Linked DNA regions of Homo sapiens. The protein of the gene in region 2 purifies or fractionates together with the protein of the main gene of each other region. This does not show direct contact. Each region holds a gene or a part of one and is shown on either strand. Other genes may lie near its edges.

Region 1 (12,681 bases), on a different chromosome or scaffold from region 2:
TGACCTTGGGATCTGGCCACCTCAGCCTCCCAAAATGCTGGGATTACAGGTGTGAGCCACCACACCCATCCTCGCCCAGTTATTAAATACCTTCCCTCTTCAAGTCCTAACCTTGCAGGCTAATTCCTCCCTGGAAGAAGAGGATTCCAATGCTCCTGAGCATAAAAAATTCAGGTCCTTGAATGACGTGGACCCATTCTCCAGCTCTCTGGTGGTAGAGGCCTGAGGCCTAATTTATTCAGCACCTCCATCCTTCAGTCAGAACAGATGAGGACAATACAGGCAGCTGTGCCTCAGGCTGCCAGGAGCAAAAGGGCCATCACCAGCTGGGCCACAGCCTGGCGGAGCCTCCATGTGGGCTTCCTGCTAAAGTCCTAGTGGCTGCTCCTCCCGCAGTCAGGGAGAACAGATCCAGGGCCTCCCACCCAGTCTCGCTGGCTGTCAGTTTGAGAACCTCAACAAATTACAGAGTTGTTTTTGCAACTACAACAGATCGGTGCTTTCTGGAGCATGGATGGCTTACAGACTTTCTAAATCCTGAGACTGTAGAAATCCCCTCCTCAGTCATGGGTCGTCGGGCTGGTGGAGTAAAGGGAGGGTAAGAGAGCTGGGACTCAAAGACCAGCAACTCATCAACTGTGAGTATGTGTGTGCTTGCTTAGGGGGGTGGAGTCCCCCTGGGTCCCCGGTGGCATTCAGGGGAAGACTGTACTGCAGGACCTAAGGAAGGATGACAGGAGCTGGGCGTCCACAGGGCAAGGGAAATCTCAAAAGTTGTTGGTTTCCAGAGTAAATAGCTATCTTATGCAAATATGTTCTAATTATTATTTTTTTTTCAAGTTGTTGTTTCTGAGTTCCAGCTGACAAATTCCACCATACAGACCAGGCGTAGGTGCAGATCAGGAAAGGAATCTTAGAACTCAGTGGATGTAAGCCCTGCCCAGCAGACCAGCCCCTTCTACCACTGACTTCCATTTCAGACCCTTCTCCACAGGAAGGAACTGATGGCCTCCTAAACAAGCAGCCATCAGCTTGGCCTTGCTACCCTTGAGAGAAGGACCCAGTAACCATTATCAAACACAATGAAAAGCAGAGGAGGGTTCTGACCAAGAACTGCTCGCTTTGTATCTCCAAACGATGCAGTGCAAATCCAGTGGCAAATGCAGGAGAGGCAACCACAAGCACATGGCCAGCCAGAGTCCTAAAATCAGAACAACAAAGTAAAAGGGTAGAAGGGGAAATATGCTGGCTAAAAAAAGAGCCTTTTTCTTTGGGACAGGTCCCTGTATGGTAAAGCAAAGAGCTAGACTTTTGGCATATAATGACATCTACTTCTGAAAAGGAAGACTTAACCAAAAAAGCTTAAGGGCCCAGAAGAACAAAGTTACTGTTTTACTTCTCAAGCAGGTGAGAACCAAAGAGGACAAAACCATCATCCTTCAGGCCTGCTACTCTACTAATCTCAGATGAGCAATTCAGAGGGACTTAAAAACCTTCGGGTAGGAGCAGAGCGCAAGGAAACAGCCAACTTTCCCCCAAGAGCACATCCCAAACTGCCTGCCCCAAGGGCTCATCTAACGGTGGAATCACACATATGCCCCTCCATGGAACTCATTCACATAACAGAAAGACACCTGCGGCCTGCAAGTCAAAAGACAACTGCAGGCTACAAGTCCAATACTGCTCAGAACCTAAACTGGGGGAGAGAGGGGTTGACAGGTGTGGGTAGAGCTCTTAACTGGCTGACCCTGGGGGTCTATAATTCCTTTTCCTTCTTTTTTTTTCCTCCCTTTTCATTACCCACAGTATAATGCTTTTTAACTATCTATCCACTTGACAGCCCAGGATTGCCGCAGTCCATCAGTCCATCTCTCATGTAAGGTCTTGTTCAGGGTTGGAAGCACAGACAGGATGCCTCGGGAAGACTCTCTCACCTCAGAACACTCAATCCAAAGAATGCCCAATATACCACCAGGCACAGTAAACTCAAACAACAGAAGCACCGAAGTTCAACTCAGATATCATTCTTGCCTATCATTGAAAAGACACTAAGTGGAATGGCCTGGGGCTTATATTTGGATGGAAAAACAGACTCTGAAAGAATGTACTGGAAATATGCTTGAAGTTCAGCTTCATGAAACGATTCCCCTCAAGTCAGGTACCCTGAGAGCCTGTTTCTCTCAGCTCTACCATGCTGCCAGTGGGAACCAATGGGCTGGACAGTGGTGCTTCAGGGTAAACAGAGGCTTCCTATGTCTGTTTACAAGCCCAGAATGCCCTTGAGAGGAGCCAGGCTAAGAAAGGTGTGATGAGTCAGTGGACTTCAGAGCACCAAGGTGGTTTGGACTCCCGGTCAGGTATGTACTACACAGGCAGTGACTCAAGAAGGCAAACTGCTCATGGGGCCAGGGGCCCAGTACCAGCTCCAGGCACTGAGGGAAGAGAAGAAGGTGCAAAGAGGGAGGACTATAAGACAAAGAAATGAAGCAGGAGAGTAAAATTCTTTTCATAAAAAAATTAGCCTGATAGATAACAAATATACAAAGTTAAAATTTGTTAAACACACTGATACTAGGAGAAAAGACAAATTGGTATTTGTTCCCACGTAAGTGCTAACACGAACATGGACATGGACGAGACATGAACTGCTGCCTTGGGCAGCAAACAGAGACACCTGGGCAGAGGAATAGACACAGCCAGTGCGTGAACTGCTCCTCAACACAACGCCTGACAAACAAATATACACACATTTTTTAATTGAGGAACCAAAGGAGAAGAGGAAAGGAGAGAAAATCTTAAAACTCAGCCCTGGGCTGAGGAGGCGCCACACAGCACTGAGTCTGCCACAGAGGGCGATGGGGTGACTGGCCAGGAACTCCTAGAGCAGCTTCTGGTAACAGTGGGTGCAAAGCAATGAAAGACATACTGGCCACTGGAAACATGTTTCTTCTTACTTTGGGGGTGGGGCAGAGGCAGGAAATACAAAAGCCCCTGCCTCGTGGGCACAGCGCCACCAACACTACACTCTGAGTATCTCCAGGCAGTTGTTGTAGCAGATGGCGATCCAGTCGGGCTGAGTTGATGCCCACTGCACATTGTTGATCTCTCCTTCAGCTGTGTAGGCCAGGATAGGGTCCTCAATGGCTCGGGGCATTTGCTGGATGTCCCAGATGAGAGCCTGGTGGTCATCCGCTAGGGACAAAGAAAGCCAGCAAGCAAGGTCACAAGTGAGGCAATGCGGATGATGATCCCTGCATTTCAGGAGCAAGTCACAGTTTACAAAGCACCCCCGTGATGGCGGTTCTATTTTAAGCCCCCATTTTATCGATGAGGAAATCGAGATTCAGAAATGTTAAGGCACTTGTTCCAAATCACACAGCTATTCAGCCAAGTGAGTGGCAGAGCCAGAACTCAAATCTAGGCCCTGACTCCATCTCCCAGATGTCCCCAGGCTCTATCCACTGCACTAATGAGTCCTTCTCATCTGGGTCAGGTATCAGGAGTGGACAAGGGGATACCAAACATGTCATTTGCAGCCACTTAAAATACTTGAGTGGTTACAAAGATCATTCTCTGATCATTCAATATAATGAGAGCGTTTCTTCCCTGTTTGATGGACATTTATGCTTCAGTGAGGTGTTATATAGAAGACTGATAAAGTAGTGCTGATATGTGCTGTTAAAAAATTCTTTCCTGGCCAGGCATGGTGGCTCACACCTGTAATCCCAACACTTTGGAAGGCTGAGGCAGGCGGATCACCTGAGGTCAGGAGTTCAAGACCAGCCTGGACAACATGGTGAAACCCCATCTCTACTAAAAAAAAAAAAAAAATACAAATTAGCCAGGTGTGGTGGCACACACCTGTAATCCCAGCTACTTCGGTGGCTGAGGCAGGAGAATCGCTTTAACTCGGGAGGCAGAGGTTGCAGTGAGCCGAGATCATACCACCGCACTCCAGCATGGGTGACAGAGTGAGACTTCATCTCAAAAAAAAAAAAAAAATCCAAGAAAATAGCTATGGGAAACACCAGAAAGATGGTAATCACTTTAAATATATAAAAGCACATGAAAAATAAGTAGAAGGAAATATATTAAAATGAGAATGATGGCAATACTAAGATGGCAAGGTTAGGATTTATGTTTACTTTTCTCTAGTTCCTAAGTGATTCGTAATGTGCTCATATTACTTTTTTTTTTTTTTTTTTTTAAATGGAGTCTCATTCTGTTGCCCAGGCTTGAGTGCAATGGTGCAATCTCGGCTCACTGCAACCAAAGCCTCCCAGGTTCAAGCGATTCTCCTGCCTCGGCCTCCCAAAATGCTGGGATTACAGGCATGAACCACCGCACCTGGCCTATATTACTTTTATAATCAAAATAGTAAGTTAATTTTTAAAAAAGAAAAAAATAAGGCAATGGCCTTCAGAGCTGCAGTGTACCCTGACTCTGCCATGCATTCTGATGAAAGCTGGTCTCAGATACAAAGAAAATCTGAATAAACTAAACCCTAATAGACTAATTGTGGGCAATACTAGTCTCCTGCCAAGGCCGCATAGTCTGGGCCAGGTGCAAGATCCCTCTCCCAGGGACAATCAATGCCAAGAGGTCAGGGAATTGCACCTCTAGAGCACTAAGGCCCTTTTCCTCAATGCTCAACCGAGCACACTTGAGCAACAGCTCCTTCGGTTGAAGGGGCTCAAGGCAGGTGCAACACACAAAACAACAGCGAGCCAGACAAAGGCAGCAGCCAGGAGCAGAAAATGGGGCTTCTACGGGGCCAGTCCTGCTTTCCATGAATAATGGATGACACCTTTCTTTTCTGCTTCTTCTATCCCTCCCTATCCACACCCCTGGGAAAAAAAAAAAAAGAGGGCAATAATGAAGAAGACAGACCACAATCTGAGGTACAGAAGGCAGCAGCAGGCCCCCAGCTGCTCTTCAAGGAGACATACAGGCATGAGCAGAGGGCCAAAATCAGGAAAAGCTTCATGCCTTCCAAATAATGCTCAAATGGCAGAAAAACACCAGAGTACATTGCTTCTTGGGCTCCATAACAAACCTTGTCCATTATAAGGCTCCTGATTAGTGAGGAGAAGAAAAAAAACACACTAAAAAAGTTAAGGAGCAAAACATCACAGGACTAGGACAGAATCCTATCAGTGCAAAAGGAAGAAGTATATAGTTGTATTTGGGGGCATAGATGTACATCCCTGAAAGTATACCAAAAGGGTCTGGAAGGAGACACATTACCTGTTGATAGAGGTCATCTATGCAGAGGGGGATGGAGGCAGAAATGATATAGGAAGGAGAAAAGATGACTTTCGCCTTGCTCTTAAATATGCTTCTGTACTGTTTTCAATTTAAATAACAGATTGGCATTATTTCTACAATAAAAGTGCATTGACAACCAGCATATTTTTCTTTTTTTTTTTTTGAGACGGGGTCTCACTCTGTCACCAGGCTGGAGGGTAGTGGCACGATCTCAGCTCACTGCAACCTCCACCTCCCAGGTTCAAGCGATTCTCCTGCCTCAGCCTCCCGAGTAGCTGGGACTACAGGCATGTGCCACCACGCCCAGCTAATTTTTGTATTTAGTAGAGACAGGGTTTCACCATGTTGGCCAGGATGGTCTTGATCTCCTGACCTCGTGATCCACCTGCCTCGGCCTCCCAAAGTGCTGGTATTACAGATGTGAGCCACTGCACCCAGCCTTTCTTTTCTTTTTTTAAAATTTATTTTAGAGGCAGGGTCTTGCTTGGTTGCCCAGGCTGGAGTACAGTGGCACAATCACAGCTCACTGTAACCTCAAACTCCTGGGCTCAAGGGATCCTCTCACCTCAGCCTCTAAGTAGCTGGGACTACAGGAATTCACCACCACACCCAGATAGTCTTTTTTTAACTTTCTGTAGAGATGAGGTCTCACTATACTGCCCAGGCTGGTCTTGAACTCTTGGCCTCAAGCAATCCTCCCACTTTAGCCTCCCAAAGTGCTGCAATTACAGGCCTGAAACACTGTGCCTGGCCCAACATATTTTTAAGGGGTACTTTTTTTTTTTTTTTTTTTTTTTTGGAGACAGAGTCTTGCTCTGTTGCCCTGGCTGGAGGGCAGTGGCATAATCTCTGGTCAATGCAACCTCCACCTCCTGGGTTGAAGTGCTTCTCCTGCCTCAGCCTCCTAAGTAGCTTGGACTACAGGTGCGTGCCACCATGCCTGGCTAATTTTTTTTGTATTTTTAGTAGAGACAGGGTTTCACCATGTTTGTCAGGCTGGTCACGAACTCCTGACCTCAGGTGATCCACCCGCCTCAGCCTCCCAAAGTGCTGGGATTACAGGCGTGAACCACTGCACCCAGCCCGTAAGGGGTGCTAGCTTTGGTCTGGGAAACAGTGAAATGAAAACCACAAGTCACAAACCACAACCAGGCAAAGTTCTGTGGGGCCCTCCGATGCATCCAGAGCACACTGTGGGTTTGTTATAGTGAAACCTGAAAGGTCCCATGGAGATGTTGATCTTCACAGTCCCAAAGATTCTGTTATATCCATGAGGGATGCCTCCCTTTCCCCATATTCCTGGAATTGAGTCCTCTGTGCCATCCAGATTTCAGGGGCACAGTACAAGGCACAGCCCTATAACTGACACATGATGTAAATCATATATGGAAGATGTTCTGATGTCCATGAGGGTACAAGATCGTCTAAAAATTTGTACTGATTGAATTTCACAAGTGTGGAGAGGCTCCAACTAGTCATTTTGTATAAATCTCTCAAGACTGTGCTTAGAAAACAGTAACAACTACAATTCTAAGGAGCCAAGAGAACAGATTTCCTCCATCCTTCCCAGATTTCTTTCTCCCCACCATGATTACCTGCAGTGCAGATGTGGCAGGATGAATGTGGGGCCCAAGCAATGCCATTGACACATGCTCGATGGTTGTTTAACCTGGCGACAGGTGTGCAGGGAACCCGGACATCTAGAATCACCACCTGCGGAAATAACAAGTAAAAGGCCTGGGATCATCAGAGTTTCATAGAAAAAAACAAAAAATACTATCCACATGCAAAAATCTTTTTAGGCATAATTTTTCATTTGTGGATTTAAAGAACTAGAGACAGGATTTCCATAGGATTGAGGGAAAAGAAGACAAAGGACACGGGTAGTTGATAGTCTCTATCTTGAGCAACACTGGGCCTTTAGACTGATAGGGGAGATGCAGAAACAGACAACAGGAGTCTGGGTAATCCTGGGTCCCAGCAGGTGCATGTGGTAAGAATTCTATGCATCTCAGATGAATGGAATGAGAGCCCAGCCAAAGCAGAATCTGAGGTGCTAGCGCCACCAAACCAAGGACAACCAATGCATTCTCCCCACCCACAATTCACCTCTTTAATCAAGTAACAGACTAGAGAGAGCTGCCATTTGTTTTTCTTTTTTTTTGAGACAGAGCATGCCCTGTCACCAGGCTGGAGTGCAGTGGCATGATCTCCGCTCACTGCAAGCTCCGCTTCCCAGGTTCAAGCTATTCTCCTGCCTCAGCCTCCCGAGTAGCTGGGACTACAGGTGCCTGACACCACGCCCGGCTAATTTTTTGTATTTTTTTAGCAGAGACGGGGTTTCACCGTGTTAGCTAGGATGGTCTTGATCTCCTGACCTGTGATCCGCCCACCTTGGCCTCCCAAAGTGCTGGGATTACAGGTGTGAGCCACCGTGCCTGGCCTTTTTTTTTTTTCAGATGGAGTCTTGCTCTATCTCCCAGGCTTGAGTGCAATGGCACGATCTTGGCTCACTGCAACCTCTGCCTACCAGGTTCAAACAATTCTCTTGCCTCAGCCTCCCGAATAGCTGGAACTACAGGCGTATGCCACCACACCCAGCTAATTTTTGTATTTTTAGTAGAGACGAGGTTTCGCCATGTTGGCCAGGATGGTCTCCATCTCTTGACCTCGTGATCCACCTGCCTCAGCCTCCCAAAGTGTTGGGATTACAGGCGTGACCCAGAGCGCCCGGCCAGAGGGCTGCCATTTCTACATCTGTTTGCTAAAGCTAGATGAATCTGTCCAGACTACAGAAGGGAAAATCTGCTTTTTCACTCAGCACCATAGGCACATACGATTTGGTTTACTCTTTAGATATTGCTTTTCCTGGCTCTAACTCCAACTCTTCAAAAATTAAAAGTTCTTAACAAGTAATTCTTATTCCAGATTAGGCTTTCTCAGTCCCGGGACTGCTGTCATTTTAGGTAGGATATACTTTGCTGGGGGACTGTCCTGGGCACTGTAGGATATTTAGCAGCCTCCCTGGTCTCTACCCCCTAGATGCCATAGTACCAACTGCGTCTCTAGAGCTGTGACAATCAAAAATGCCTCCAGACATTCCCAAAGATACTCCGGGAGCCAAACTGCTCCAGTTGAGAACCAGCCTTCTAGATATACTAAGCAGTGCTGGAGTTAGGCAGGGCCCATGGTAGCCTGAGAGGAGTGCTCACCTCCATTCCATCCATGGCCATGGTGGCCAGGTAGTTAGGGTCCTGCTTGTTCCAGCAGAGGCGAAGCAGTGGGTGATGCTGTGGGTCTTCGTAAATGATGGTGCTGTGTTCTAGATGGCGGAGGTCAAACATCCGCACCGAGCCATCAGCACCCACAGAGGCAAACATGTCCCTGCCACCCCCGGCCCGGCTAAATGCAATATCATAGACCTGTTGGTGAACAAGAAGCTCCAGTCAGATTCAGATCCATTACCTCTTCTTCCTATAGGAGGGAAATCTGCCACGTCCAGTTCATCTAAACCTCGCTCATGACACAAAAGCAGATAAATGAAGCCCAAACAGTGTCTGTGAGTACTGAAACCCGAGAGCTCTAATATCAGTGGCTTCCCAAAGATGGAAGATCATTCTGCTATAGAAATTGGCTGGCTTCTTCCCACATTCCTGCTTTCCAAGTCTTCTTCCTCCAACCCGTGATAAAACAAAGGCACATGCCCTGCTGACCAACAGAACAGTGGCTGTCTTCTGCCACACAACAAGAATGAGACACTTATTTCCTGGGCCTTGTGCACAATCAGAGGCAGGTCTACGAGCTCATTAAGGCCTAGATCATCAATCACAGAGGTGAAAGCAGCCCTCCTGTGGCCACTTAATAGCAGCCAAGCTGATTCTGTGAAACCTGGACCTGAGACTCATTTGCAAGAAAGAGGTAACAGAAATTTTGAGTCACGGGAGGCCTAGATGTTCCTGTATTCACAAATAGGTTAGTAGCACCCGCTTGTCCTAGGACATGTTTTTTCTTCTCCTAGTTGGTTTGAGATCATAAGTGAATCAATTTAGGTTCTGAATCACTGTTTTCTGCTTTTATTTGCTGCAAACATTGCATATCACTAACGTCTATGAGGAAACAGAGGCAGAGAGCAACGGAGAGCTTCAGAGAAAGGACGAAGGCCGGGTGCGGATTACACCTGTAATCCCAGCACTTTGGGAGGCTGAGGCGGGCGGATCACAAGGTCAAGAGATCAAGACCATCCGGGCCAACCCAGTGAAACCCCATCTCTACTAAAAATACAAAAAAATTAGCTGAGTGTGGTGTCTGGTGCCGGTAATCCCAGCTACATGGGAGGCTAAGGCAGGAGAATCGCTTGAACCCGGGAGGCGGAGATTACAGTGAGCTGAGATCAGGCCATTGCACTCCAGCCTGGGACAGAGCGAAACTCTGTCTTAAAGAAAAAAAAAAAAAGAGGACGAAGAGGGACGAAGAGAGAGCCAGAGACAGACAAATAGAGAGAGAAACAGAAAAACTAATGCCAAACAAAACTCATCTTCTGGGGATAATAACAGCTGACTTCTGGGGAGACACGACTAGAATTTCTCACTAAATATTACAGCTCCAGTGTTGAAGTTCTGCCTACAGAGGGGCACTGCCAAATGAGCATCTATTGCTATTTAACCTCACGAATTCCTTTTTTTTCTGGCTATGAAGAAATTATGCTTGTCTTTCTATGGCAGGAAGTAGAAGTGGTTCAAAAGGGACCGGGCCAGTCATCAACAAGGAGGCACTCAGGCCTGACGTGCCTGACAGATCGAGGCTTTCTCTAGTACTGTACAGCTGCTTTAAGGCACAGCCATGTTTATCAATATGTATACCCCCCAATGACAGCTCCTGGTAACCCTCAGGGACAGAGATCCCACAGGTGCCATGGGCAGCGTGGCTGAGTGTGTAATGCTCTCTCGGCTCTAAGTGACTGCTCCTTCAGTGCTCCGCTAGCATGGTTCACTGGGAAACCAAGGGAAGGTGACAACTCCCAAGTACACTAAACCCTCTTCTACACTGATCTGCCAGGTATCAATGAGAGCCTTCCAAACAAGTCTTTTCCTAGAGAAAGGTGGACTGAGAAAAATCAAAGGTGCTAGAAAGGTGCTATTACTGTTTCTCTAGAGCCACTATCCTTTCTCAGGTTTATTCCTTCAAGACAAGGCTGCCGGTCCAGGCCTGTCTGCTGTCAAGATCCATTCCTGGCCTTTCTCCCTGCTCTTCTTCTCTGTGTCACAAGAGAACTGATTCCTACAGCGTGCATTTGGCAGGGTCTCAGATCTGCTGGCTGCTTCTGGCTGGTTCAGCCATGGGAGGCTTTGGTGGGAAAATGGATGATGGGAGGCAGGGAAAAGCTAAGGTATTTCTCCTCCCCTCTCTCTGTTCCTAGAAGCGTCTCTGCCAGGTAAATCCAGCCCCTGGGCTCCAGGAACCCTGCCTCCTCCCATGGTCCCTCTGGCCTATAGGCAGCTGCAGCTTCCTGCTGCTCCCATTCTATGGATGACCTCACTGCTACCTATGTGGCTTCTCAGCTTTACCATCTTCTGTATAAGCAGCCCCTGGATTAAATCCCTGCAGTTCAAATACTTAAGAGTAGTTCCCATTTTCTGGGTTGGACCTAACAGACAACAGCAGGCTAAGTTGTCATATAACTAAAATGTAGCCGCTTGTTCAACTTGATGCCAAGAGGGTTTCCAGAAGTTCCTTACTGGTCCTCTCTGTGGGACAAACTCTTCATTTGACCCCTGGTTTAGCAGCAGTCAACTCTAGAAGTCTTGTAACAGGGCTTACCTTCAGGAGTACAGAAAGCCAAAGACAACCCCTTACTAAGAATGATAACCTGGGTCACATCTTCCTATGCTGTTGACAACCTCAAGTTTCTGACCTAAGATCAAGGCATTCCTTTTATCTGTATAGATATTAATACCCCTAGCTGTGCAGGGTAAGGTAGAAAAGAACAGGAAATAGTACCCACAGGAGATGAGAGTACCAGGAGCATGCAATGGCTGTAGGAGGAAAAGACTTATGGGGATTTTCCAAAATCACTGAGAAGAATGCTTTGATTAAAATGCAATTGGCCGGGCGCAGTGGCTCACGCCTGTAATCCCAGCACTTTGGGAGGCCAAGGTGGGTGGATCACCTGAGGTCAGGAGAGTTCGAGACAATCCTGGCCAACATGGTGAAACCCTGTCTCTGCTAAAAAATACAAAAATTAGCCAGGGGTGGTTGCGGGCACCTGTAATCTCAGCTACTCCGGAAGCTGAGGCAGGAGAATTGCTTGAACCCAGAAGGCAGAGGATGCAGTGAGCCCAGATTGCGCCATTGCACTCCAGCCTGGGCAACAAGAGGAAAACTTTGTCTCAAAAAAAAAAAAAAAAAAAAAAAAAAAAGCAATCACAAATAGCTCTTCTCAGTTTTCCCAATAAACACAGAAGCATCGCCATCAAAATAAAATATATTCCATTGCCTCCACTGCCAACAGTAATGAAAGTATAAAGATTAAGTGAACATACTAGGATTTGGTAAAACATTTATAGAGAAAAATGAATAATTACGTTTGTCTCTCAGAAAATTTTTTCTCTTCCTGTCTCCCTTCTTTCCTCCCCAAATCTAATCTGTTTCAAGATAAGTATTACTCTAAAGTTATTTTTTAATCACATCAGTTCCCAGCTCCTCTATAAGAGACTTTGTTATTTAAAAAAAGCAACCTCTGGCATGAAAAGAACAATGACAGACCGTAGAATAGGTCATTTACATTAGCCAAAAAAAAGCATTAGTTTACAATAGTGTTGTTTTCCCGTTTTTGATACATTACTATTGTCAATTTAGACAAGAAGATGTTATGTTATGATTTTCTACATAAATTGCAGAACAATGAGAGAACAAGCTGACCTCTTCCTGTGCGGAAGGCACAGGAAGCATTTGAGGAAAGACGAAATGGAAAAGCATCTTACCTCTTTGTCATGGGCGATCAGCTGGGTCTTCACGTGGCCAGACACGAGATTCACTCGCCCTAACACCTGCCCTGTCTCCAGCCCCCAGATGGTGCATGTCGTATCAATGCTTGAGGTACCTGCAAACAACCAGTGCAAGTCAGGGCTGACGGGACCAAGGTTCTCATGCAAGCTTCCCTCTTGTGTTTACTCATCTGCTCAGCCCAGGGAGCAGCATACCATAAAGACTACAGAAAACAAGGTGGGGGCTACCGGCAGAGCCACCGAGGCAGTCAAGTCTTCAGTCCTCACCGTAGGACCTTAGATTCTAACTGGAGAGACAAGATCTATACACACGGAAAGCTCACCCACACAAAGGAATTAATAAATAACCACATTCCACGCCTAGCCTACTTCCCACTGAGCCTTGTTCTAGGATGTATGGCCCAGTGTG
Region 2 (12,681 bases):
TAATGAAGAGCGCCTGTTAGATTTTAATAGGGTAAGTGGACTGTCCTCCTCCTCGTCATTAACTTACAAACAGCCACCACCTCCAGTTGTCACTGTAGTCAAAAACCTGGGAGTCATGTGAGTGGACCCCACCTCTCCCAGGAACCAGCCAGGCCTGTGGGTGCAGACTTCCTGTTCTCTGGCCTTTGTTCTGAGTCTGCATTCTCCCCCGCTTCCAAACCCCCTTGACTGTTGACTGCCAGTGCTTCCTGAAGAATCCCCAGCTCTCTCCCCAGTCTTGGCTCTACACTACTGCCCGAGGGCATTGCATTACAAATGCAGAGCTGACCCTGTTGCTCCTTGGGTGGGCACACTTTTCATCTTTTTTTTTTTTGTTTACCTAATAAGTGGGAGACCTAGCCTTGTCCTCTTTGAAAGTGCACCCTGAGGCAGCCTTGCCAGTGTGCTTGTTGCCGCTGTCCCGGCTTCTGCAGAACGATCCCGCCCTTTCCGTGTCCTCCTGCACTCTGTGCACGACTCTTCTTGCTGTAGCCAGAGCATGTACTTGCGTTCCGTTTCTGCATGTCTGCCTCTTCCACAAGCCTGTGGGCACCACGAAGGCGGGAGCGGGGCCTCCGCCTGGTTTAGTCTCGTCTTAGACCTTCCCCGGTTAAGAGGCAGGCAGGCAAATGAACCTAAGGAAAATTCTTTTTATTTGGTGTGAATTGTCAGTGTATTAGGGTTCTCCAGAGGGACAGAACTAATGGAATAGGTATATATATACACAAAGGGGAGTTTATTAAGTATTAACTCACACGATCACAAGGTCCCACAATAGGCCATCTGCAAGCTGAGGAGGAAGGAGAGCCAGTCCCAGTCCCAGTCCCAAAACTGAAGAACTTGGAGTCCGATGTTCGAGGGCAGGAAGCATCCAGCATGGGAGAAGATGTAGGCTGGGAGGCTAGGCCAGTCTAGTCTTTTCACATTTTTCTGCCTGCTTTATATTCTAGCCACGCTGGCAGCTGACTAGATGGTGCCCACCCAGATGAAGGGTGGGTCTGCCTTTCCCAGCCCACTGGATCAAATGTTAATCTCCTTTGGCAACACCCCCACAGACACACCCAGGATCAGTACTTTGCATCCTTTAATCCAATCAAGTTGACACTCAGTATTAACCATAACAAGTCCACCCCTTGTCAATTTGAACCCATACACATCTCCTGAAATTATATGTAATCTTCAAATAAAGACAATAAGGTCATAATTATACCTAACATAATACAGCTATGCTTCATACAACCGGAAAAGCACCAATCCCAAACCCAAGTACTATTACATAGAGTTAACAATACTTAAATGCTGATATGAAGTCAATAAATCTTATGTCAGCCGGGCGCTGTGGCTCACGCTTGTAATCCCATCATTTTGGAAGGCCAAGGTGGGCAGATCACCTGAGGTCAGGAGTTCAAGACCAGCCTGGCCAACATGGCGAAACCCCATCTCTACTAAAAATACAAAAATTAGCCGGGCGTGATGGTGCACCCCTGTAATCCCAGCTACTTGGGAGGCTGAAGCTGGAGAATTGCTTGAACCCAGGAGGTAGAGATTGCAGTGAGCTGAGATCGCACCACTGCACTCCAGCCTGGGTGACAGAGCAAAACTCCATCATTCATTCATACATACATACATACATACATACATACATACATAAATATATACATACATAAATCTTGTGTCACATGATAAAGGACAAAAAATAAAATGAGATTTTCTTAGTACAAGTGTATACATGCACAAACGTGTTTTTAACGAAGGAGGAAATACTCCTCAAGACAATTACAGTCCTGGTTTCTGCACCTGGTCACATGGTCGTAGCTGGTATTGATGACTACCTTCTTCTACTACCCATTCTGTATTCCCTTTGCCTTCAGCAAGCACCTCAGCAGGTTGTGGTTTTTTCCCGGTGGAGTGACCTAAACCTTCATTCCTAAAGAGTCTGAGCCATTTGTATCCTGTCTGGACTGGGCTGTTGTAGTTTCCCGTTAACTTGAATCACACGGCATGTGATCAAGTTGACACTCAGTATTAACCATCTGTCAGTGTCCATTCAAGTCCTGTGAGAACTGTCTGCCCAAGCACCTGTAGCATCATCGTCCACGTCCTGCTGCCCACTGACCTGTCCGGCTCCACACATGAAGGCAGATGTTTGAGGCCCCCACCAGCTCTCTCCTCAGTGACTAGTTCACATCATCCCTCCAGCCTCAAACCCCAAACTGAGACATATTCCCCAGTCCTCTCTCTCATCTTCCACACACAGTCTGCCTGCCAGTCCTGACCGTTCCCCGCTGTCAGCCACTTCGCATCTCCCACTTCTCCTCCTCTCCATCATTACCACTTTGTTCAAGCCACTGTCCCTGCTCCTGAACAGCTGCCATGGTCTTTTCATTGTCCTTCCTGCTTTCGTCATCCTTTCCAGCCTTCTCTCCACACAGCAGACAGAATGACCTCACGAGCAGTATCTTGTTCAGTCCTCACAACGACCCTGTGAGGTAGGTACTGTTGTCATGCCTGTTCTGCAAAATAGGAAAGTGAAGCACAAAAACATCAGGCGCCGTGTATCCGAGGCCAGAGAGCCACAGCTTCAGTGTGGACCTGAACTCTGAACCTCAGCAGTCTGCCTCTAGGACCCATACTGCTAACCATGATGTCACTTTGCTGTTGCATTTGAGACAGATCCAAACTCCCCGCCACGCCTCTACAGCCCTGTATGTTTTGCCCCCGTCTGCCTTTGACCTCATCTGTCTCTGCTCTCCCCTTACTCTGTGTGGCTTTTCTGTGCTTCTGCCTCAGGGGTTCTCAACCAGGGGCAATGCTGCCATTTGGAAATGAGGTGGGAGTGCTGCTAGTTACTATGGCAGGGTGAGGGGAGCTTTGTAATGACTGTGACTGAGGAGGGGCCACCACTGCATCTCATGTCCTGGGGTCCAGAGATGCTGACCATCTGGTGTAGGGGAGACAGTCCGACACCACAGAGTGTTGGCACCTCTGCATGGCTGGCTTCTCAGCTGAGCGGGCCTCTTCTCCAAAGAACTCCCTTCCCAACACACCCATCTGCAGTGCCCCCCCTCACCATCTGTACTGTGTCACTGCAAACTCCCTTCCCAACACACAGGTCTGCAGTGTCCCCTCACCATCTGTACTGTGTCACTGCAAACTCCCTTCCCAACACACCCGTCTGCAGTGCCCCCTCACCATCTGTACTGTGTCACTGCAAACTCCCTTCCCAACACACAGGTCTGTAGTGTCGCCTCACCATCTGTACTGTGTCACTGCAAACTCCCTTCCCAACACAGAGGTCTGCAGTGTCCCCTCACCATCTGTACTGTGTCACTGCAAACTCCCTTCCCAACACACAGGTCTGTAGTGTCGCCTCACCATCTGTACTGTGTCACTGCAAACTCCCTTCCCAACACAGAGGTCTGCAGTGTCCCCTCACCATCTGTACTGTGTCACTGCAAACTCCCTTCCCAACACAGAGGTCTGCAGTGTCCCCTCACCATCTGTACTGTGTCACTGCAAACTCCCTTCCCAACACACAGGTCTGTAGTGTCGCCTCACCATCTGTACTGTGTCACTGCAAACTCCCTTCCCAACACACCCGTCTGCAGTGCCCCCCTCACCATCGGTACTGTGTCACTGCAACTGGCACATGTTGGTTTGCTCGTTCATCTCCCCAGCGAGCCTGGCATGCGCCTTCCACTGCTGGAGTCCCTGTGCCCAGTAAAGTTCCTGGTGCATAGCAGGTACTCAAAGACTTTGAAAATGAAATAATTCTTTATCCTACCCTAACATGGCTAACATTTTGTCCAAGTGACTGAACATGTGGAATTAGGATTTTGGATCCTTCATGGATCAGAGAAGAGAGGCGGTTTTGCTCTGAAACAGTAAAACTCTGCATGTTTGTAACTCCACAGGAAAACACTGATGATTTATTATTTCTTCTTTGTATATAGATAGAGTATCTCACCCTTTTGGGGAAAAAAAAGTCTTTTTGATGTGTTGAAAATTGTTTTAATCTTAGGTGTCTTCTGTTTATGAAGCAAGATGTACAGGAGAGAGAGATTCTGGAGCAAAGTCAGATGGCTTCCGCGGAAAGATGTGCTCCAGCGCCAGCTCCACCTCGGAAGAGACAGGCTCAGAAGGCGGAGGCGAGTGGGTGGGCCCTAGTGAAGAGGAGCTCTTTTCTCGAACTCATCTCTAAACCTGCAAAATAGTACAAATTATTGTTTAAAAATGATATGTGATGGAAAATTACTCTTCAGTGAGACCTGTTAATCTAAAACAACAACTTAGGTTTCCTCTTCAATTAACTGATTCAGATTGGTAATAATTATCTTTCTCTTCTTGCTTATTTTAGAGTTGAGGACAGCTATCCTGTTAAAGATTTTTTTTCCCAGCTGTTAAATTCTTGGCTATTTGAAATAGACTAGATTGTGTTGTCAAATCAAGAATGGGTGTGCATGTGCTTGTCTTAGAAGTATCACTGCTTTTTGCATCTTAACTGCAGTTAATTTTCCTTCCGACTGCGGTTATATCACTATGACCTTACTAGCATTGCAGTGTCAACAACCACTTCTGCTCTTCAGAGACTTCAGCTTTGGAGCATTTAGGCTTTGTTCTCCAAGAACTGGGATATCCATTCTTACCCTACAGTGGCTTGATGCCTTTCTGAAGGCGAGAGGGAAGCCTGGGTGACTCAGCGGTGGTCTCCATTCAGCAAAATCTCATGTACATTTCCAGTAGGAACCGCAGAGGTGTGCTTTTCAAGACTCACCAAATACTGTGTTTTCTCTCTTAGGATTTCTTTTCCCCTAAAGTATCACGGAAGATACTATGGTTCGTGACTTTCTTGCTAACTGAAGAAGCCAAGGATTTGGGGTGTGGGGTCGTATGCGAGACACAGTGGGGTAAGGGTGCATACCCCACCCCTTACCTGCTCTCATACTGCAGTTACATTTACACCAAAACCCCATGCAGGGTTCTTTGTGGTGAGTGTTCCATACGTGCTAAGGACCTTAGTTACAGATTGTTACTTTCTGGTGACCTATGTTGAATTGAAACCCCCAAAACTTGAAATTGTGAACATTTGACATGCAGTAAAGGCCACCTCATCACCCAGAGAAATCTTTGGCTGCTGCAGCTAGCCGCTTCTTGGCTGTGATGTAGTATAGCTTCGATCTCATTTTGTGTTTGAGAGAATGTTCTGGGCAAGTTCTGTGTGTGGTGGGTTGGGGCGGGTAGAGTCATGAGTTTTCCACATCCCTGTGTGGTGGTTTTGCTGACTGTCGCTCCGTGGGACTGGCTCCCGTTTCTCCTTGGTGAGCCCGGGGAGCCGGCGCATCTTGTGAGTCGCGTCTGTGCATGGCGATCCGCTCCTCCGGCTCTCATGGCATTGTGCCACAGGCAGAGGCCAGGAGGAGCAGTATGTGCACAGCCGAAACATTTTACATTTTTTACATTGTTTTTCTTTTTTAACCAACTCATTGTTTAAAAAACAAAAACAAAAAAAACCTAATCTGTGAAATCAGCGTAGCATGCCTGGAGCATCAGGAATGGCAGAAAAGTCTGATGCGCTCTAGACAGCTTCACCACTCATTTGGGCAGGCAGTAAACACACATATAATTTATTAGCTGGGAGCTGAACTGGCTGTGAAATCTATGATTTGCTTTGAACATTTGGGTTTTGTTGCCTTTTTCTTAATTGATAACACAGAAAAGAAAGTACCATCAAAGACTGTGGAGTCATTGAGGGTCTGTGTGTCCTCACCGAGAGGGACCTGGTGTGCCCGCCGGGTCGATCTTCCCACGTGTTAGGGTTTATTTTTATACAACACATTTTTTGACACTTTAAGGTGGGTGGGTGTGTGTGTGTGTGTGTGTGTGCGCGCGTGCGCGCGCGCATGTGTAAGGTTTTATGTTGCTGTTATTTATTTACGAACTTCAGATACGTTTTTATGTATTTTTCATTCTTCTGGAGCTTCCTAAAAATTGATAAGCATCTGCACTGAAATATAATTTAACAGCAAAAGTAAAAAAGGATTGAAAGTTGTAAATTCCTCATATCACTACAGTGACGATTATTCTAGAAATCGTTGCTTGTGTAGCAAAGACCAAATAAATAGATTTCAGACACAACCTTGAGCACAGTTGATTTTGGACAGCTGCTGTTTATTAGGAAAGGGCTCCAGGTGGCAAAGGTGCACACTTCCTCAGACACAGGTGAGAAGATGCAGCACCTTCCACAGGTGAATGGGACGGATTCGAAGTGAGCAAAGGGATTCACAAATTATGTATTTATTTGTTTTCATAGTTAAGTAGCTGAAGCTCAGAGGCTTTCAGCAACAGAGATGAAAGTGTGGCTTTTTAGTTTTGTGAATGGATGATCACAAAGAAAAAGCATTTTTAAAAAGTTGGCAAACGCTGAAACGCACTGTGGTATGAAGCGCATTGCATTTCCATAGCACTGAAGTACCAGTTTCCATTCCTGGGCTGAGATTGTTTTTCCCGTGGTTGTATTGTTCTGATTTCACGTACACCAGAGTAACTGATTTTTTTTTGTTTGTTTTCTTGTGGAGTTAACACCAAATAAAAATTGTAAAAAACAGTTTGTTGTTTTTATTTCTCATAGCAAAGCTTCTTTTGTAAAGAACTCCAGCTTCCTTTTACTCATGAGCATCCGTGGAAGAGCAAGTGCCCAGGTTACATTTGTTCTAGATGGAGGTCATTTAGCTCTCATTGCAGACACTGCTGAAAACATTGTGCAGCTTTGCTAGGGAAGAAAGTGGTGTGGCCTGCTGAGAAATCAGCGGCTCCTCCCCATCTCACCCCCAGCACACGCAGGGACTACTACCTGAGTCTGCAAAACACATAGCATTTTTGTCCGTGGATGGTACACAAAGCTCAATCTTTTTGTTTTCTTCTGGGGAAAAAATTAAATCTTTATATGTTAATATGATTGATATTCATTGTGCAAAAAAAATCAGTGTGTTTTTAAAGAAGTATAAGGGAAAAGGAAAACTCATATGTCCTTCTGTCACTCTGAGACATACACTGGTAACATCTGTGCAAGCCCCTTTCCAGGATTCTGAATGTACAGTATATATGAATGCATACACAGAGAAATTTACATTCAAGAGTGTACTATACTTGTTCTTCTATAACATCAGAAATAGGTTTTTACTCAGATGTCTTCATGTCGGTAATTATAGAACTACATAATTATTTTTATAGCTGTATTATGTAGATTTAACAGGTTCCTCATTGATAAAACAATGTTTTTTTGGTTGTTTATTCAGTATCTGAATAACGTTTCTATGGACATCTGTAAACATGTATGAGGGGACTTTTAAAAGTTCATGGAAAATGGAATTAAAAGAAAAATAAAAAAATATAAACTTTATTTCTCAACATAAGTTCCATCAAGTTCAAGATACTACTATAAGACATAATACCAACCATTCAGTCTATCCCTAAAGAACTGAGGCTCCTGGAAATTTCACCTTGTCAGTGTAGTCTCTGCATTGTGAACTGAAGAGAAATGGGTGCCCTTTACAGCTTTTTAAGATTAGGAAACAAAAAGTCAGAAGAAGCCCAATCAGGACTGCAAAGTGGATGCCTGATGATTTCCCATCAAAACTCTTGGAAAATGGCTCTCGTTTGCTGAGAGGAATGAGCAGGAGGAGCACTGTCATGGTGGAAAAGGGCTCTGGTGAAACTTTCCTAGGCATTGTTCTGCCACAGCTTTGGCTAACTTTCTCAAAACACTCGTCATAAGCAGATGTTAACATTCTTTGGGCATCTGGAAAGTCAGCACATACACAGTGCTTTGAGCATCCCAGAAAATGGTTGCCTGGCCTCTGCTTTTGACCAGTCTGCATTTGCTATGAGGAGACCCCTCCCACCTCTCGGTAGCCAGTGCTGTGATCACAATCACATTGTCTTCAGGATTGTGCTGGTAAAGCCATGTTCCATCTCCTGTTACAGTTCTCAGAGGAAATGCTTTAGGATGTTGATTCCTCTTGTTGAAAGTTTCCCCTGAAAGCTCTGCTGCTGTCTCCAGCTGATCTGAGTGCAGTGGTTTGGTAGCCATTGAGTGGCAAGTTTGCTCAACGTTAATTTTTCAGTCAGATCGTGTAAGCTGAACCATCTGAGGTGTCTGTGGTGTTGGGTGTTGTTTCTGCTGTTAATCATTGGTCCTCTTTGATTCAGGCATGAATAAGATTAATTTTTTCCTCACAAATTGATGAGGAGGTCTTCACCATTGTCTCATCCCTTCTTAAAACAAGTTACCCATTGGCAAACCTCTGATTTTGGCTGGGGGCGGGGCATTGTCCCCATAAGCTTTTTTGTAAAAAAATCATTGATTTTGGGCCAGGTGTGGTGGCTCACGCTTGTATTCCTAGCACTTTGGGAGGCTGAGGTGGGTGGATCACGAGGTCAGGAGATCGAGACCATCCTGGCCAACATGGTGAAACCCTGTCTTTATTAAAAATACAAAAAAATTAGCCAGGCGTGGTGGCATGTGCCTGTAGTCCCAGCTACTCAGGAGGCTGAGGCAAGAGAATTGCTTGAACCTGAGAGGCGGAAGCTGCAGTGAGCCGAGATCACGCCACTGCACTCCAGCCTGGGCAACAGAGCGAGACTCTGTCTCAGGAAAAAAAAAAAAAAAAATCACTGATCTCACCATTCTTCCACCCAAGCATCACCATAAATTTGATGTCCTTGCTTCCATTTTTAGCAGAATTCATGTTGCTCTGATAGGTGCTCTTTTCAAACAGTCATACCCTTCTTAGTGCCTCAAAGTAGATCTTAAGACATGTTATAACAAGTTAGTACAAGTTTATTTTGGTGCAAAAAATTTTTGAAATCTGTGCATAGCTCCTTTTTGGAGACAGTCTCACTGTGTCACCTAGGCTGGAGTGCAGTGGCATGATCACTGTCATCTCAAACTCCTGGGCCTAGTGATCCTCCTGCCTCAGCCTCCCTAATAGCTGGGACTATAAGCACACCTCACCATGCCCAGCTCATTTTTTAATTTTTTGTAGGAACAGGGTTGCCCAGGCTGGTCTCAATTACTTGGCCTCAATCCATCCTCCTCACCTCAGCCTCCCAAAGTGCTGGGATTACAGGCCTGAGCCATTGCACCTGGCAATAGCACAGGCCCTAAAGGATGTAGTTGGCCCACCCCCCAACACCATTTTTAAAGTCCTTACCCCACCGATTTGCAGGAGTGCAGTGATGTCATCTCGGTTCACTGCAGCCTCCACCTCCCGGAGCTCAGGCAGTCCTCCCCTCTCGGGCCAGGAATTCTGACACCACAGCTAAGTATTTTTAGAACAGCCCGGGGTGGAGTGTAAAGGCTTCTGCCTTTTTCACTGAAAGTGCTCTGGCCACTGCCCTGTGTGCCTGCTGCTGCTGCCACTACAGATGCCACTCTGGCCATGAGTGGCTGTGGCAGTGCCCAGGAGGCCTGCATCTACCAGCAGTCCAGGAACAGAAAGGAAGCCCCTGCCCCTGGTTCCTCTTGAAAGCAGCCAGTCGGATGGCGTCACAAGCTGGCCACTGTTGTGAACGCAGAGATTAGGAAATGAGCTGTCGTTTCAGAGCCCGCTGCTAGCCTTGTGCCACTGGTGTGGTTAATTAATAGCATGTTCAGGGACGGTTGCCTCAATTATCAAGCTGGTAATGATGCTGCCACCTAACGTTTGGTTGGCGTTGCTATTGTCTGTGCTAGTCATAGTCAACAGCTGACACTGAGGGCTTACTGGCTGCCACGCATTCTAAGCGCTCTTGAGTGTTAACTAGCAACCCTATGAGGGAGCTACAGCTGCTCTGTTTTACAGATGAGTAAACTGAGGCACAATGGGGCATTAGGCACTTGCAGTCTCACACTTGGTGGATGCTGGAGCCCGAATTCACCTTGGGCACTGACTGCAGAGTCCATTTAACACTGAAACCTCCATCTCACAAAATCCCACTCATTAAGTTACGTATTGTCTCTGGGCACGGTGGCTCATGCCTGTTAACCCAGCACTTTGGGAGGCCAAGGTGGGCGGATCACCTGAGGTCAGGAGTTCCGAGACCAACCTGGCCAACATGGTGAAACCCCGTCTCTACTAAAACTACAAAAATTAGCCAGGCATAATGACAGGCGCCTGTAATCCCAGCTACTCCGGAGGCTGAGGCAGGAGAATCACTTGAACCCGGGAGGCAGAGGTTGTGGTGATCTGAGATCGCGCCACTGCACTCCAGCCTGGGTGACAGCAAGACTCCGTCTCAAAAAAAAAAGTTATGTATTGTCTGCGTACTTGCAGGGAGTCCTGCTGTGTCAGCCCCGGCTGTGTGTCCTTGGGCGAGTTACTCAGTCTCACACGTTGGTATCTTTAGATGTAAATGGAGATCATAACTGGACCTCTCTCCTAAGGGTTGGTTATAAACATAAAATAGTCCATCTGCATAAATACTAGAGTGCAAACTAAAAAGTACCTGAGACAGACCTCAATTAATTTAGAAGTGTATTTTGCCAAGACTCAGGACACACCTGAGAGAGAGAGGTCTGTGCCTTTCTCCAAAGATGATTTTGAGAGCTTCTGTATTTAAAGGGGAAAAGTGGGCTGGAGGGGGAAGGGGGAGGGTGTGGTCACACGACTGAATCCACAGGTTGCGAGAGAAAAGGAGCAGGTAGGGGAGTAGTCAATTAGGTATTTGACTTGTACGCACTAAATCCTCACTTTACGTAAGATACAGTGAACACAGAGTAGCTACCTGTGGAGATAGCTGGCCTTTTTGTTTTGTTTTGTTTTTTGGACAGGATCTCACGCTTACCCAGGATGGAGTGCAGTGGCGTGATCTCGATCTTGGCTCACTGCAGCCTCAGCCTCCCGAGTAGCTGGAACCACAGGTGTGCGCCACCACACCCAGCTAATTTTTGTATTTTTTGTAGACAGAGGTTTCACCATGCTGCCCAGGCTGGCCGTGAATTCTTGGGCTCAAGCAATGCTTCCACCTCGGCCTTTCAAAGTGCTGGGATTACAGTCGTGAAGCCACCGTGCCTGGCCTGTCTGGCCCTTTCGCTGTAGCTATCTGCTTAAGAACATAAGGAAACGCAGCTTCTTGCATGAGTCTATTCTCATCTTAAGTATTTCCTTTTAGCACAGTGAATTACGGTCCCACGTTTTTATTTTCCTTTCACACTGGACTCAAAAAAAGCAAAAACGGAAATGCAAAAGAGAAGTTGCAGCACTGAGTCCAGTAACTAAGGAGACAGTTGCCTCTTTGCAGGCGGTCTCTCACTCCCTGCCCTCCCCCCTGTGCTAGCAGAGCCCTTTAAGGGCCCTTGTTGGATCTGCAGCTCCAGGCCTGCCTAGTCAGCGGGGGTCAGCAGGGGTCAGCCCCACAGAGGCCATTCATCCTTGAGTGCTGACCACAGTGCTGTCACCATGATCTCGCCCTGAAGGGAGGTCACGCTATCCCTTCGACACAGGAGACCAACTCCTTTGGCTGTCCTTGGCTCCCAGTGGTGGCTGAACCAGAGGGCAGGGGCCAGGGCAGCAGCAGAGCCAAGTGTGCCCACTGGGGCCGAGGGCTCTGGCCACCACGTCCGTTGGGGAGGATGGTGGGGAGGGCCCTGGCCTTGCAGCGAGGGGGCAGGCACACGGTCTCCCACTTCCTATCACAGTCCAGGGGTGGGGAGGACCCCACCCTCTGGCCCTGTCACAGGTGGGGACAGTGACCCTCCCCTTCCAGGTGAGGCTACATTTTGAGGCTGAGGAGCACACGAAATGCTGGTCCTCAGCAGCGCTAAGGCCAGGAGCCCCTGATGTGTGAGTTTGTGTGGGGATGTTGCCCCTGAGGAGGGGTGATAGGAAGAGCCCCCTCCTCGTGAGCTGTGACCCTGAGCCAGTGGCTCTCTCAACTGTGAGATGGGGACCCTTCTCCCTCCCAGGGCTAGGGGAGGAGAACTGGCAGGCAAAGTGTCCGCTCATTTCCCTGAATAGAATACAGGCTCCCTCCTGAGGGTTTCTTGCCGTCCCCACGTGGTCCCTCCCAGCCCTCACAGTGGGCACCAGCAGTGCTGTCCCTCCTGCCCGGGGCCCTAGAGGGAGGAGGAAGACGTGAGTCCTGGGACTGGGCAGGGAGACAGGTCAGTCCCCGCTCCACGAGTTCCTGGAGCCCTCGGGTCTACCCTGCTCTGACCGAGCTGCTATGGGTAGAGCAGATCTACCTACGGCCCATCATCTCTGCGTCTTTCCCAGCAGTCTCAGGGTGTCTGTCACCGAGGCTGAGAACCCAAAGTTCTGGCCCAGGAGCACCCGGCAGAGGTGTGAGCCGGGGTCTGCCGATGGCTCATCTGATTCCCAAGTGCAGTGCTGCTTTCCCACTACCGTGGCCTCCACAAACCAGCGCTGTGCCCCCGCTACCGCCGCCACTCCCAGGGGGCCAAGTCCCACACCTTCAGACCCTCAAGACGGGAGCCGGAAGCCACCGCGGAACTAAAGTCTGGGAACCCCCCTTGGGGCGCTCAGGATTCACCCGCGCATGTGGCTGGGCACAGGCCTGTCCTCCAGGAGACTGCAGGCTGGGGACCCAAGGGTGACACCACAGGCTGCCCGCGCTTTGTGCGCAAAGCCAGGAGCGCTCTTC

What was found.
Region 1: the proteins of KIAA0232 (region 2) and DCAF7 purify together in Homo sapiens (affinity purification with mass spectrometry; 2 studies listed by BioGRID and IntAct, with this or other methods). This does not show direct contact.

The regions. Positions count from the first base shown.
Region 1 is NC_000017.11:63,579,511-63,592,191, reverse strand, and holds part of DCAF7 (DDB1- and CUL4-associated factor 7), read right to left. Parts: intron 12,368-12,681; coding exon 12,249-12,367; intron 8,691-12,248; coding exon 8,481-8,690; intron 6,982-8,480; coding exon 6,864-6,981; intron 3,193-6,863; coding exon 3,020-3,192; 3' UTR 1-3,019. UniProt on the Homo sapiens protein: Involved in craniofacial development. Acts upstream of the EDN1 pathway and is required for formation of the upper jaw equivalent, the palatoquadrate. The activity required for EDN1 pathway function differs between the first and second arches.
Region 2 is NC_000004.12:6,876,727-6,889,407, forward strand, and holds the end of KIAA0232 (uncharacterized protein KIAA0232), read left to right. Parts: coding exon 1-31; intron 32-4,060; coding exon 4,061-4,240; 3' UTR 4,241-7,438; downstream 7,439-12,681.